Regions from separate parts of the Homo sapiens genome. Here region 2 is linked to region 1. The links come from fine-mapping of genetic effects on gene expression. Tissue or cell type: sun-exposed skin. Region 1 holds a variant in brackets; the other region holds the start of a gene. All regions are shown on one strand. Distances are between the middles of the regions.

Region 1 (7,603 bases):
TCTGCTGGTTCCCAGTCCCCAGGCCCACTGCCTCTACTTTCCCGCCTGTCTCAGTTCCAGGAGTGCAGCTCCCGCGTCGCCTCCTGGGGCTGGCCTCTGACCCCCACACCTTTGGACCCCCATGAGCCCGAGCGACCTTTCTTCGAGGGCCACTTCCTCCGAGTGCTGTTTGACCGCATGTCCCGGATTCTGGATCAGGTAGCTAGTGGGCCTGGGCCAGGAGAACTCCAGGCTGGTGCCTCTGGGGTCCTTCAAGAGCAGAGGTTGGCCACAGGGTTGCCTCTGCTTCGGTTCTTTGGTGCCACCCCTGTCCTTTCCCCAGGTGGGAAGCCCCGTCTCACCCCTGCTCCACACGTCCTAACACGTTCTGGCCCTCAGCCCCATGGAATCCATGACACACACACATCACGTGAGCCTCCCACCCCCACACACGTTCACAGTGGCCAGGCACCTTGCTGGGGGAGTGCAAAAATACTCACCAGCCCTGCCAGCCCTCGGCTCTGTCCACCATGTTCCTACAGCCATACAGCCTGAACCTGCAGGTGACCTCGGTCCTGTCCCGGCTTGCCCTCTTCCCCCACCCCCATATTCATGAGTACCTGCTGGATCCGTACATCAGCCTGGCCCCCGGCTGCAGGAGCCTATTCTCCGTGTTGGTGAGGGTGAGGACGCCTCGGCCCAAGGGAGTGTGCCTAGTGAGGTGGAGGGGACATCAGGGAAAGGGAACGGGGCAGGTGGTTGGGGGCTGGAGGGGTGGGCACCCTTGCCAGTGCCAGGGAAAGCACAGTCTCCCATGCTCTGCATGGTGTGGCAGGGCCAGGGGACTCACTGGTGTTGCTGGCCCCATCTGAGTCCCCTGTGATTCCCGCTGTAGGTGATCGGGGACTTGATGCAGAGAATCCAGAGGGTACCCCAGTTCCCAGGCAAGCTGCTCCTGGTGCGCAAGCAGTTGACGGGCCAGGCTCCTGGGGAGCAGTGAGTACCAAGGGTGCCAGGTGAAGCCTTGGGGTGGGAGAGTGGAAAGCGCCTCTGGAGGAGAGGTGGCTGGCCACAGGGTCAAGCCTCGTGGATGCTGGGCTGTCATGCTGGGCACAGTCCTGCCCCCACCCAGCCATGCCCCCTGTGCCATCTCCCCTCAGGCTGGACCACCAGACCCTCCTCCAGGGCGTGGTGGTGCTGGAGGAGTTCTGCAAGGAGCTGGCTGCCATTGCCTTCGTCAAGTTTCCCCCACATGATCCTCGCCAGAACGTCTCCCCAGCCCCGGAAGGGCAGGTCTGAGCCAGCACCAGGGCGGTGGGAGACTCCTGTCCACACCTCTGCCCCAGAGCTGCCTCCTGCCTGGCACTGCCGCCACACTCCCCTCCTGGGATGGGGCTTCTGCTCCCGGGCTCACTCAAGGAGACTGCGGCATGTTGACCACACCAGACTGGGTTTCAGGGAATGGGCATGCCAGGTGCCAAGGAGCCAAACAGATGGCTTTCCAGGCAGCAAGGTCCTTGGGGCCTTCTTGGAGGAGCTTGGGTGACAGCCAGGTGAGCACCCAGACCCCAGACCCTCATGTGCTGTGTGCCTGGCCCCTTCTGTACTGGCCATTTGTGGCCAGGGCCAAGCCTGTGACTCAACTCCAGGGGCAAGATGGGGAGTGAGCTGATGGCTCCGAGACTGGTCAGGAGCCCAGGCCAGTGAGATGGGGCCTGGAGCCTTGTCTGTGTCACATTAGGTACCATGGGAGCTGCTGAGACCTGACATTTTGTCCCCTGCCTACATGGCTTGGCCCATGGAGAAGGAGCAGTGAATGGGATCGTCGGGGAAGCCCCTCTTCCTGCTCTGCTCCCCTGGAAACTGTTGCAAAACTCCCAGCCGCCTCATGGCAAATGCCCAAAGCATGTTCCGCACCCAGGCGGGGGCCCCTGCTAATGAGAACCTTGGTGCAGCTGCAGCCAGGAGGGGAGCGGGCCCAGGAGCCAGGCTCAGGTCCAGCTGGTTCCTCTCTGGCGCCTTCTGAACCCGTCTCAGCAGGTCCACAGCACCTGGGCAGAGGTCAGAGACCAGGGGAGGCCGGGCCTTGCCCTCCCTTCTGCCCAGGGCCCAGTGTTCTTGATAGAAGACCCTTCTGGGGAGCCAGGGAGCTCAGGGGACAGATAAGGGAAGGACGCCCCCTGACTCCAGGCCCCTGAGCCTGGCGGGAAGTGGCTGCGGCCCAGGCAGCCAGTCCTGGTGGTGTTCTCCCTGCATGCCCTCCGTGGCTGGGCTGCCACCCCACCCGGCCCGAATCTGTCTTGACCTGCAGGAATACACGGGCGGCGCCAGGCATTACCTCACAGCGGGACTACACAGTTGCTGGCTTTGCTCCTGGGCAAGGAGGAGCAGGCCAGAGCCTCTTTTGCTTCCTTTTCTTGCCCATGCCGCTTCTAGAAGCCAGGCACAGGTTGCCAAGAGGTGACACGAAACAGGAGGAAACTCAGTGACCTCTGCCTCTCCCACATTCCTCCCCGCGGGGGAGGACCTCGCCGCTCTGAAGAGCACCGTGCACATGTGGGTGCACAAACGTGGGTGTTGGTGTGGACGGGGCGCAGATCTCCGTGGATGAACTGCGTCTGGACTCTTAGATTCATAAAATATTCGAGGGTTTGGGAGTCACAGACCCTCCCCTCTCCTCAGTGCACTTTGGCATTTGCACGGTGTCTTCCCCGGACAGCACAGCAATAAATGGTGTGATTGCGTGGACACCGTGGCTCTGTTCTTGGCCAAGTTTCCCCACCTTCTGCCCAGGACTCCACTGCTAATTCGGGCCCATCTTCCTCCCCAAGGAAGACAAATTCTTTTTCTAGCGCTGCAGCAGGGAGGTGGGGTGGGCGGTAAACAGACAGGCTCTGGCAGTGCAGATCTGCTGATCCTCAGCGCCTGCCAGGAGCCAGACTCTTGGCGGAGCAGTGCCACTTCTGCTGGGCTGACCTGCAGCGGAGAGTCTGCCCACCCCGGAGACACCATGAGGGAATGGACCACGTGGGAGCATCTGTGTGCAAGTCTCATTTGGGTGTGTTTATGCTGCGTGTTGTATGCCTGTTTTAGTCATAAAGTAGGCCTGATATTTAAAACCTTGTCTTTAAGTTCAAGGCTGCAGTGAGCCGATTGCACCACTGCACTCCAGCCTGGGCAATAGAGTAAGACCCTGTCTAAAAAAAAAAAAAAAAAATTTCACAGGTGTGTTCTCAGGGAAAAAGAAAAGTTAACACATAAATAAACCCTTTGTCCTCAGATGTGTGTGGAGGGGTGGGGGATCCTCTGAGGGGGGTCCCCAAGAGACTGCGGGAGGGCAGGCTGAGAACGTGGAGGAAAAGGAGCCAGATGTTGGCTCTCAACTCGTGTTGATCACTGGGTGGCTTTTTAAAATCCCAATGCCCAGTGCCCCATCACCAGTTAAATTATTGTTGCTGGGGGTACACCCAGAGTTCAAGCTCTCCAGGTGGTTGTGCATGGTGGCTCACGCCTATAATCCTAGTACCTTGGGAGGCTGAGGCGGGAGGATCACTTGAGGACAGAAGTTCAAGACCAGCCTTGGCAACATAGTGAGAACCCCATCTCTACTAAAAGCTTAAAAATGCGCCTGTGGTTCCAGCTACTTGGGAGGCTGAGGCAGGAGAATCACTTGTCACTTGAGCCTGGGAGGTCAAGGCTGCAGTGAGCCAGGATCACACCACTCCACTCCAGCCTGGGTGACAGAGCAAGACCCTGTTTGAGGGAAAAAAAAAAAAACCCAGGTGACCCTAACGTGTGCCCAGGGTTGGAAACTACTAGGCTAAATAATGGGGGCAAATAGCCAAATGTCATTGCCCGGCTGACTGGATATGGGCCAGTGGGTCCCTTAGACACTGAGAGAAGTGAACTGAAACAAAGGGGTTTGGTTCCATCATTTGTGAGGTATTTGTCCTCAGAGGGTACAAGGATTCCTACCACCCTCCAGGGCCCAGAAAGGAGGGCAGCCAAGAGAGGCAGGGAGGGGGCTGGGAAAGGGGCCTTGGAGGTCATCTTGGCCCTCAGAAGGGGAGCCTGTGCTAGTGTTTCCTTGCTCAGAATCAGAAATCTCTACCGTAGAACACTTGATATATTTTATTTGTTCATTTCCTTTGATTTTGCTTAAATTTCAGTAAAGTTCTTTTTTTCCTCTTTCTTTTCTTTTTTCTTTTGAGAGAGGGTCTTGCTGTCTCACCCAGACTGGAGTGCAGTGGCCTGAGCATGGCTCACTGCAGCCTCAACCTCCCGGGCTCAAGCCATCCTCCTGCCTCAGCCTCCTGAATAGCTGGGATTTACAGGTGTGCACCACCTTGCCTGGCCTTTTTTTTTTCCTGTAGACACAGGGTCTCACTATGTTGCCCAGGCTGGCTTCAAACTCTGGCCTTCAAGCGATCCTCCTGCCTCAGCCTCCCAA[A/AG]GCACTGGGGTTAAAGGTGTGAGCCACCGTGCCTGGCCAAAGTTCTTTTTTTTTTTTTTTTTTTTTCAGACGAAGTCTATCACCCAGGCTGGAGCTCGGCTCACTGCAACCTTTGCCTCCGGGGTTCAAGCGATTCTCCTGCCTCAGCCTCCTAAGTATCTGAGATTACAGGCATCTGCCAACATGCCCGGCTAGTTTTTTGTATTTTTAGTAGAGATGGGGTTTTGCCATGTTGGCCAGGCTGGTCTCGAACTCCCTGACCTCAAGTGATCCACCTGTGTCAGCCTACCAAAGTGTTGGGATTACAGGTGTGAGCCACTGTGCCCGGCCACTTAGCAAAAAAAAAAAAAAAAAAAAAAAAAAATCCTACCATGATTCAGCGAGGCTGAGGGGAAATGAAGAAAAGGTTTGGTCTGGCATGGGCTGAAGTTGTGAAAAGGCAGAGGCAGGAGAGCCAGGGGGAGTGGTCTGCGCCAGGGAGGCTCAAGGAGAGAGCAGAGGCAGCACCTGCAGCTCCTGTCCCACTTGAAGTTCCTCTGGGGCCGCCCACTGCCCAACCCTTGGAGGGCTCAGAGCTGTGTTTCATTAGGGATGGGTCCCCTCAGAGTCACATCCCGGGCCAGCAGGCCAACTGGAGGGAGCCCCAGGGGCCGTGCTGGACAGCAGACTGGCCCGCACTGTCAGTGCACTGGGAAAGGCATGGGTGCCTGTGGGTAACACGAGGGGAGCAGCAGCTCCTGGACAGTAGTCCCCATCACTTTCTCCCCACAGAGACGTGTAGGCAGGGAGGCAAGGTGAGTAACACCTCTTTACTCAGCAACGTGCTCCTCCCTCGGGGGACCTTCCCCAGTGCCCCTCCATGCTCGAAGGGCCTGGAAGGATCAGAATGCAGGCCTTTCCCAAGGACGGCACAGAACGTGATGAGGAGATGCCACTGGGGGTGCAGAAAGCTCCCCATCCCCCTGGGAAGAGGCGTCAGCGTGCCCTCAGGGTAGTCAGGTCCTGAGCTTTGGACTCCTCGCTTGGTTAAAGGCACTGTCCCTTGTGCAATCTAGAGGAATGCTCCTCAAAGCATCTCTCCTGGGGACCAGGAGAGCCGCCCCTGCTCCCAATGCAACAAGATCCCTGATCGCCAGCCTCTTGCCTCCCTCAGAGGGAGACAAGTCCGCACTGGAGGGAGCACGGCTGCCTAGCTCCCTGTCACCTCCCCCACCTCTCTATCTGTTCACTGGGACAACAGAGGATCCCTGAAGCCGCTGGAGGAGCTGGCTTTGCAGGTCTTCCTCCATCACCTTCCACCAAGAGAAGTTCTCACCCCGAACTTTTGGGGGTTCATCCTGGATCCCTGGGCTCCGAAAAGCCACGGTCACCAGCACATTCAAACAGATGCCATCACTGTGATCTCGGCCCAGGTGCTGCAGTCCAAGCAACCCCTTGATCTCCACCACCAAGTGGTGCAGGGTCAGACACTCCTGCAGCAGCCGCAGGACGGCCATCTTCATGCCACCCCTCTGCTCCATAGGGTCGAGGCCACAGGCAGTGACAGGCAAGTGAGGCATCCCCACTGTGCCCACTAACACCCACACTGTCTGGGCGCTGGTAAAGGTAGCCACGAGCCGCTGGCAGACCAGATCACAGGGTAGCTCTTGGGGCAGAATGAGAGGGTGCCTGGCTTGCTGGCGATACTGGGCGGCTAGTTCAACCAGGTGCAGGATGTCATGGGCTCGCAGCGGAGTGGGCAGGGAGGTCCGTGGGTACCAGGCAGCCTGCAGGGACTCCGCATCGGCCTCCTTGGAAGTCTTGAGAATTCCACCTGGGGGAGATGTGGGGGATGGGGCAGGGAGGGTCTGTGTGGAGAGAAGTGCAGCTCTGGCAGAGTCAACAGACATCCCTGACCCAGGAGAGAGGCCCCCAGCCCAAAGGCTGGAATCTGCCCATGCCAGGCTGTGCCAGCCATAACAGGACTGGCTGTAGAGGGGCTCACCTCACCGAGGAGCTGGGGGAAAGGTGTCAACTGGCCCTGTTCACACTGCCTCCAGGTGGGCCATACCTGTGGGGCGAGCGAGGAACACGAAGCGGACCCAGGAGGGGCCCCGCTCCTCCACGGACAGCAGTGTCTCGGGCTCACAGTGCAGCCCCGCCTCCTCCTTCACCTCCCGCTGCAGCGCCTCCACGATGGTCTCCCCTGGCTCCATTCTCCCCGCAGGCAGGTACCACGACCCCCGGCACTCCCTCTTGGCCTCCTGGATCAGTAGCACCTCATCCTGAGAGGAGAGAGGATCCTCACTTCCTGCCACAGCCTTCCCTCGCCCCGGGACCAGGGGGCATCTCAAACACAGTCGCCCAAGACTCCCCTCTGGGTGGACACTCTCAACCCAGCTAGCGCTCCAGGAGACCTGCCCTCGTGTCGCTGGGGGCTGCAGCCCTCTCCTCTCTGCAATTCGTCTCTCTCTGGATTTAGGAAGACTTCCATTTCAGGAAGGGCTGAGATTCCTGGAAGCCGCTTCAGGGGCTGGAGATGAGGCCCCAGAGTGAGGGTCACCATGTGTCTGTCTGTCTTGGATTGATTTGCGTCTGTACCTGCCACTGTGTATCTCTCGCCTCCAACGGCGTGGTTTACAAACTGTGATGGGTCCTCACACTGGGGTCTGGCTTGAAACACGACCCCCACCTCCGCTCTGTACAACCCCGCCCTATGGCCCTGGCCCCGTCTAGTTGTCATTACATCGCCCACTACAGGCATCAGCACCAAAGGCCTGAAGGTAAGCCGGGATTGAGCCACTGCTATCTGAGGGGCCCTGGGCACTCCGCTAGACTCTGGGGAAGGGAAGGAATGAGGCCTAGTCGGATGAGACAAACAGGCCCCGGGCCTCAGTTTCCTCTTCTGCATATCGGGACGAACGCAGGACACAGATGCGAGTGGGAGTGGGAGTGCTTTGCAAAACTGGGAAGCGCCACGCACGCGGCAGCGCTGGCTGTGGCCGTTGGGTCTTCTGTCCCCACCTGGGCTGGCTGCGCGCTCCCGAGGCCCGGCGGGCCCGGGGGCGGCCGCTCACCTGCTCGCTGAGGAACACGGCCAGCACCACGTAGCACACGTTCTTCCGCAGCCGCACGGGCGCCGGCGGCTCCCCGGCCGGCGCCGAGTCGCAGCTGTGCACGCTGGACCCCTGGCCA
Region 2 (7,603 bases), 49 kb before region 1:
CAAAGAGGGAAAGGGGAGATAAGAATTATTGGGAATAAGGAAACTAATATGTACCGAGCTCAGGAGATGTGCTAGGCCACACTCAGGGCATACTTGCTTGCAATCCTTCTTTAGGGCAGTGAGATGTTCCCATGTAGCACATGTGGATGAGTTCACACTCAGAAATGCCAGGCCATTCACGGTCTCACAGCTAGTGAGCACTGCACTCTAGATTCTGCCCGGCTTCCACACTTTGCCTGCAAAGTGTGCCCAGGCATCGTGAGTTCTGGGGCAGGAGAGAGCACAGGCCAGGGTGCTTGCGGGGGCTTTGTGGAAGGTCTGGGGTTTGCATGATTTCAGATGATTTCAGTGGAGAAAATATGCACAGAGCGGAAAATGACGAGAGGAAAAACGGGCACGAGAATCAAGGCGGCAAAATGGGAGGTGTGCTCCAGGGAAGGGGAATAGTCCGTCTACTTGGCTGGAGCTGAAATTTGTGTAGAGAAGTGGCAGGAAGTGATTGGATCAAATGATGAAGAGTTTGGTCCTTATGCTGTGGCAGGGAGGAGATGGTGAGGGGCTTTGCGGGGGCCAGATGCAGTGGTCTGGTGGCAGCATGCTGAAGGAGTGGAGGCTCTAGGGTCTGGGCAGCAGAGTCCAATGCCCGGAGGCAGGGGCACATGGCTCCCAATCTCTGGTGAGAATGGTGGCTTTGGGGCCCTCATCCTTCCTTTTCTTCAGGTCTCTGTCACCCTTTCCTTCCTCCCTGAGTGTCCAGGTGCCCTGGCTCCACCTCTCCCGAAGTTAATGTTTAGATAGCTCCCCCGCCCAGCAGGTTGGTGTGTAGGGTGGGGCCGGGGGGCACTGGAGTGAGACAGACCAGACGTGGACAGAGAAGCCTATCGACAGGGCCTGGGGGAGGGAGGAGGCAGCAGGGCCGGAGTCCACCCAGGACATCTGGCACCAGTGACCTTGTGGGGAAAGGAGCCAAGAACGGGGCGTCGGGGGGCCTGGGACCCCCCTGCCTGAGAGATACAGGAATCCTGGCCCCGTGTTGTGGACACAAGCGCCCATCCTCAAGGTCCTGAGAACTCCTGAACTTCCAAAGGTATGAGAGCCCTGGCAGCCGCCTCCTGCCTGCTCAGTATGGAGCAGAGCTGAGGAAGCCCACCCGCCTGGGGCCTGAGCCAACAGGCACCTGTTGTTCAGTGTTGCCAGCTTTCAAGGGGGAGAATCTCCCCTCTCAGACAAGCCATGGGGGAGTTCAGTTCAGCTGGCCTTGAGAGGTCAGAGGCCTTCCCAGGGGGAGGAGGCCGGAGGCAGAGTGAGTCTTCCCATGGGACAAGGACAGTGACGAGGTAGGGTCAGAGGATGGCATGGGTGAGAAGGGTCCCCTTGCCTCCCCTCTGAACGCCCACCACCAATACACACACACACACACACACAGACACACACACACAGCCCAGATCCCTGGCAGCAAAATGACCTTGGCAGCTACCACTCCTCAGGTCGACAGAGGGAGCCCTCACTCTGCAGTCCCCTTGGGTCCAGGCCTGGCTGGGCTGAGCACTCTTCCTGCCCAAGGTGGCCCGCCCGCCCCACCCATGGAGGGACATTCCGATAGAATGTGAGACTCAGGCATGGTGGGGGACAGTGGGAATGGGGCCTTGAGGAATTGGAAGAGAGCTGTCCCTTGCTCTGAGTTTTCTCAGGTGGAATGAGAGAGGGTTTGGGACCAGGTGAAGGTGCTCACAGAGACGGCAGAGGTGTGGGGCCCGCAGCCGCGTGCCCAGTGCAGCCAGCGCCCAGGGGCCTCTGAACCCTGCCGGAGCAACCCCTCTGGCCCTTCAGCACAAGGACTGTCCCTGCCTTGCTGCCTGTCATTGTCCCGAGCTCCACACTGGGCTTCCTGGAGTGGGGACTCTCCCCAGTGCTGCATACTCTTCAAGACTGGCCTGCTCTCCAGCCCTGAATTAGGGTTCTCCTGGGGTCACCCCTAAAGCCAATTCTAGAGCCTTATGAAAGGAAGTGGGGGGATGGGGTACTTGGTGGGGTTCACTGGGCACCCTAGCTCCTGAAGCTGTCCCCTAACCCCCAGCCCCAGCACTGAGGACCCACCCTCAGGCCCCCTCCCTCCATCTCTGAGGAAGAGGCAGCGGGAGGCACAGCTTCCTCCTCCCCCCCTCCCTGCTGCCGCGGCTGAGCCGGGCCTGAGCTGCCGGCAGGTTGTCTTGGCAACAGGAGGTGGAGAGGAGATGCGCCGAGGGATGGAGGTGTATGTCACCGAGGAGGCTGCTGCGCTCCTGCCCCACGCCCTGGGCCCTTGAAGGTACCGAGCACCCTCCCCTCCTTCTCCCCTCCGCCCTTTCCCCTTGACTCCCCCTACTCTGCCCTACATGCACTGGCTTCAATAGGAGGAGGCACCCCTCCTCCCAGGCCCAGCGATTCTACCCATTCCTCATCACCCACCTCGTTCCAGGCCCCTGGCCACAGCTGTCCTTCCTGGCATCAGCTCATTCCAACTCTACCTCTGGGGACCCTTGCACCAGAAGACAGCTCTCCTGGGGTGGGGCCTGGTGGGGGAGGGGCAATACAGGGGAGGAACCCAGGTCGGGGTGCGGCGGGGATCAGGAATTCTAAAGGGCTGAGGTGTCAAAGCCCCAAGTACCTGGTCCGCTGGAGGGACCGAGAGAGATCATCTAGGGCTGGAGTGGGGCTGGGGCTTCCCCTCTGTCTCTCAGACTCTGATTAGAGGGAAGTAAGGGTGGGGTTGAAGGTACAGAAAGCCGAGAGGCTGGGCTGAGGCCGGGCTGGTTGTGGAGCGATGGCTGGAGTGGCTCCTCCTCCAAGGCTGTGCCCCTTTCTGCCACATTGAAGGTATGCCCCCTCCCACATCACTCTCCTGGCCTTTTTCTCTGCAGTTCCATGGATCTGATGCTTCATCCCCCACCCCCAGGTTTTCTCTACCTTCACAGCCACCCCCGCCTGGCTGCAGCAGCTCAGCCTGTGTTCTGTCTCCCTTCTCAGCCACCTGCCTCCTTCCTTCCTCCCTTCTCTCTGGAGCCCATCCCTCAGGTTACTGTCCTCTCTGTCCCCACCAGCCAGATACTTTCTGTCCCCTCCTGGCCTCTTCCCTCAAGCCCCTCCCCCTGTGCTTCTCCATTCAGACACCCCAGAGCCCCCTCCCCAGATTCTAGATTTCCCCAACAACAGCTGATACCATCAGCTGACCGGCTGGGGGCAGGGTTGCCAGGGCAACGGTGAGGGCTGCCTAGGTAGGCAAGTCTGCGGTGTGGAGGTGGAGAGGACATTGGGGCCAGGGCGAGGGTCGAGGGCAAGGCTTGTTGTCCTTCCCCATCCTGCCCAGGGGGCCCGAAAGGCCAATGAGAGGCTCCTGGGGTGGTTGAGGCTTTGCTAGAGACAGGGAAGGCACATGCCTGTAAATTCTGTGCTGGGACCCAGGGGTTACCAGGCAGGAAGCTCCTTTTTCATGAAGCCACCCTAGGGAGAGATGGGGTCCTTCTCTCTCTCTGCTGCATCCCATTGGAGTTCCCAGGGGATTCAGGTTACTGAGGGGCCAGCTCAAGTCTCAGTACTGAGGACCTGGTTGCATCCCTCCATTCTACCCTCCCAGGAGAGAGCTCATCCTTGGGTAACCAATTCTGGCCTGTGCCTGCACCCCCACCTCAAGAGGCTGGGCCCCAGAGGCCTCAGTTGCTGCTGTCAGATGGTGGGGTGGTCATGAATAGGGTAGGAGGTGCAGGTGCCTGGAGAAAGCAGGCATTGTCCGCCTGGGTCATCAGTAGCCCCCTCCCTCGACCCACCGCCCACAGCAACTTGAACTCTGGCTGTTTAGGAGGAGGCTGAGGGGCTCTGGGTGCGTGTGGGTGTGTGTGTGCGTGTGAGTGCTGCAGACTGCGGTGTGGGAAAGGGAGAGGACAGTGCTGGCTGATTCTGCTTTGTCATGACGCTGGGTTAATGCTCCTCTTGTTTGAAATGGATTGAGCTGCAGCGCTGGTGGAAGAGCGCGCACATCCACACACACACCCTTGCCAGCCACACGCTATCAGCTGGAAGTGGGGAGGGCGCGGGGAGGGCGTGGGGGAGCCAGCAGCCCGCCCGCCCTCCCGCCCCCAGACGAGGACTCCCCAGCACCGGGGGATCCAGGCGGCCGTGCGTTGCAGAGAAGCAGGGTGGGGGCAAGGAGGGTGGGGGCCCAGAGGGGAGATCAGACCGCTCAGCCGAGACCAGCTCCCCTCCTTCGCCAGCTCCCACCCCGCCCACCCACCCTAAGCCGGCATTTTTCCTGTTATTTGTGCTCCGGGGAAGCGCCGCGGGGTTCCTGGAAGAGACACCTATTACCTAGGCTCCTGGGGGAAGTGACAGCCCGTGGATCTGGCCTACGCCTCTCGGGCCTCTGTGGCCTCAGAGCGTCTGGGCCACACTGTCTGGGAAGAGGTAGGTGGCAGGGTCTCCGCCTCTCCTCCCCTCTGTGGGCACTCTGGGCCACAGCGCTTGCTGGCGAGCCAGGCTTTGGGTGGCAGCAGGGTATCTGGGGGGAGCCCACTGTGGGCCCTGTTCAGTGGGAGGATGGGCCGGCCCCTGGGACCAGCTGGGCCTGATCTAATGGAACCTTCTGATCTGGGGAAGAGGGCCTGGGGTGTTCTCATCCCAAGGATGAGAACTGCTCCCAGCCCAATCCCCTCTTTGCCAGCATCTCTGCCTGGCCTACCTAGCTGAGCAGGCCAGCAATGGAAGGGATGGACTGTGGGGGCACGGGGTGGGCAGGGGAGCATTCCCTCTCTGCTGAATACTGGCCCGCTGGCCTCCCCAAAACCACTCCACATGCTCTGGGGGTTGGAGCAGTACATTTAGGGGCCTGAGGCTGTTTGTTTGGAGCCTGCTTTTTAGGGGGAGTGGGAGGAGAGCCTGCCCCCAGCCAGTGGCTGGCCAGGCTGGGGTGGGGCTGAGTGAAGAGTGAGGCTGTGGCAGGGCGCAGCTGCAAGCCCAAGCCCAGTACTCCCCCTGTGCCCGCCGCTGGGGTGCTTGAAGGGGCCAGGGCTGAGCAGACATGCAGCCCCCACAGGGTTCTGGGGCTCCCCCTCCCTAGCTCTGTCCCTCAGGGCCTAGCAGGTCCAGCCCCCTTTCTTGGGCAGACACACCCAGTGTGTCCCTTCCAGGGACCAGTTGCCTGGTTGTGAGAGTCAGGGGAGCAGGGACAGGTCCAAGACAAGGAAGGCAGTTGGGCTGTGGGAATGGGGAGCCCAGGGAAGGCCTCCAGAGCTGGGTAAGTGGAGGGCTCTGTGTATGTTGCTGTACACGTGCACTACTCTGGGATGGATGCCAGGGAGAGGACCGGTGGGTGGGTGTGAGCGGGTGTTGGCAGCACCATGTGTCACAGTGAGGGGGCCTCGATGGGAGAGTGGGGGCATGAGCTGGCACACAGGGCTTCGGAGTCTCCCCGCGTGCATGCGTCCTGCAACGGTTTCAGCGCGGGCGCTTCTGCCTGTGCCCACCTGTCCATCTTGTGTCCGTGCTGCCGGCCTCTCTGTGGTCAGGCGTTAGACTCCTGGGTGAGGTTGTCCACCCGTGGGTGGATGTCTGCAGAATCCCTCTCCTAGAGCTCCTGGGTGTTGTGGGACTGGAACAGGGAGGCCCTGGGATCCAGAAAGCTGAATTGAGGCTGCATCTCCCCCAGCTCTGCCAGTCCCACTTGTACAACAGGACCAGCTATAAATGGAGGGGAAGCAGTCCGCCTGAGGGGGCTGCAGGATGCAGAAAGCAGAAAGCGGGGTCTCTTCAGAGGGTGGGTGGAGAGGGCACATAGAAACCAAACCAGAGAGAGACCTAGGAGAAGATGGCTGCACAGATGCGTCTCTGGGTGGGCTAGAGAGGCAGGAGGGGGCACCTGGGCCCGGTTTTGTTGTTATTGAGAGAACAAGGGAGGGCAGGCCTTGAGCAGGGGGACTCTGGGCTCCCCACCCACCCAGGCCTGGTCCTTTATCCGAGTATGAGAGGGTGCCCTGTAGTGCTGGGTTAGGGGAACCCTCATCCCAGCAGACACAACGGTAAAAAACATTGGAGTAGGGGAGAGGGAGAAAGTGGGAGAAGAGGAGGGAGTCCCCAGGCTCTGCCAGCCTTAGGACAGACTTGGAGTTCAGGCTTCGCCTAAGTAAGGGACACCTCTGATGAGCCACTGGCCCAGAGCAGGCCTCAGCCTCCTGGTGTCCTTTTCCAGTGGCGGGGGGGTGCGGGGAGCAAGGTGCCCTACCCCACCCACATCACACGCATGCACAGCACCCATGGGAGCGCCTGGCCCCTGCCCTGCAGCGCCGCACTGCTCCACCCTCCCTGCCCCTCCCCACCCAGGATGCTGTTTTGGGAACTGGTGACCTAGCTGGATTCTGCCTTTATTTCTGGCATTGAATTGTTGCCACAGTAACTGCGGGGGTGGGGCTGGGTAGGGGAGAGGGTGAAAGGGAAAGAGGGAGGGAGGGAGAAAAGATGAAGAAAGCCAAGAAAAGGGACCAGAAGAGAAAGCAGAAAGACAGGAGGAAGAAAGGGAGAGAGGGCCAGGCAGTCGCACTGTGAACAGAACAGGAGAAGGCGAAGCGGGGCAAAGTTCCCTGCCCACCGACGCCAGCCTGCTTGGATGACTTGCCTCGTTTCATAATTCACTTACTGTCTGCACCAGCCGGCCTCCAGCCTGGCTGGACCCTGCTGCCTGTGTGGCCCGGAGCCAGAGGCCCCCACACTCCCAGCTGCTCTTCTACAGATGCCATCAACGAGCAGGACTCTGGGTGGCTCCACTGTCTAAGGTTAGCACGTGGGACCCCCAAGTCCCACATTTTGATTGAACTGGGATCTTTGGTACTCATTGAAAAGAGCACTTGGCTTTGGCCTCAGGCAGGCCGGGGTAGGGATTCTGGCTTGGCTTCTATTTGGGGGGCCTTCGGCAAGTTCACCTCTCAGCTTCATTTTTGCTCATCTCTAAATGAGGAGAATGTCGTTTTGTGTGAGGTTTAGAGACGATGTATGAAAGTCCCAAGTATACAGGGGCTGCCACCAAGCAGGTAGTGGTTGGCTGGAAACAGGAGCACAGCTAGACCAGGGGCCCTCCACCCCGAAGTTGCCATTCTGCCTGCGGAGGCTTCATTTCTAAAAGTCCAGGGGAGCCACAGTCTGGATCAGTTTCTGCCTGGAAGAAGAGCGCGCCAGGATGAGTGGGCACAAACTCGGAGGGCCCAGTGGGCGGGTCTTATCACCCACATCCTGGGGAGCTGTGGAGAGGAGAGGGTGGTGGGTGAGGTGGGGCTGGGCTGGTGGCTCAGATAAGGCAGGGACACACAGCTGGGGGAGGGTGGGGCTGAGATGGAGGGCGAGCGGCTGGCTGGCGTCCGACCAGGGCCAGGGGCAGCTGAGCTGTCCCTTCCGTCACCTGGACCTGCCTTCCTCTGTGGTGCTCTCTCTTCCTCCCTCCCTCCCCTCTTCCTGCTGCAGCTCGCCCTTTCTATCTCTTTGTGCACGGAGGTCGCTGGGACCTTGGGGATGCAGGCACAGACAGGCGGGGTGCATGGATGGGAGAGGGGTCTGGATGGGAGGAGGTGGAGTGAGCTGGCACTTG

The links. PIP is the estimated chance that this variant, and not a neighbour inherited with it, causes the effect.
Region 2: DMTN starts here. The variant in region 1 is fine-mapped to the expression of DMTN in sun-exposed skin (GTEx, PIP 0.98).

What each region holds. Positions count from the first base shown.
Region 1 is chr8:22,101,654-22,109,256 of GRCh38, forward strand. FHIP2B (FHF complex subunit HOOK interacting protein 2B) reads left to right here. Exons shown (of 17, transcript NM_022749.7): 14 at 55-198; 15 at 522-662; 16 at 875-975; 17 at 1,140-3,258. The coding sequence ends at 1,278. It overlaps NUDT18 (nudix hydrolase 18), which reads right to left. Exons shown (of 3, transcript NM_024815.4): 1 at 7,486-7,603; 2 at 6,480-6,693; 3 at 5,225-6,242. The coding sequence ends at 5,647. Among named protein-coding and RNA genes, the nearest start is that of NUDT18, 4.0 kb to the right of the region's middle. RefSeq lists silencers at 2,644-2,791, 7,340-7,603, enhancers at 5,566-5,710, 6,107-6,880 and a cis regulatory region at 5,638. The variant A/AG (reference allele first, on the strand shown) is at 4,430.
Region 2 is chr8:22,052,700-22,060,302 of GRCh38, forward strand. It overlaps DMTN (dematin actin binding protein), which reads left to right and starts at 4,115. Exons shown (of 16, transcript NM_001387751.1): 1 at 4,115-4,437. RefSeq lists enhancers at 5,233-6,194, 7,158-7,603.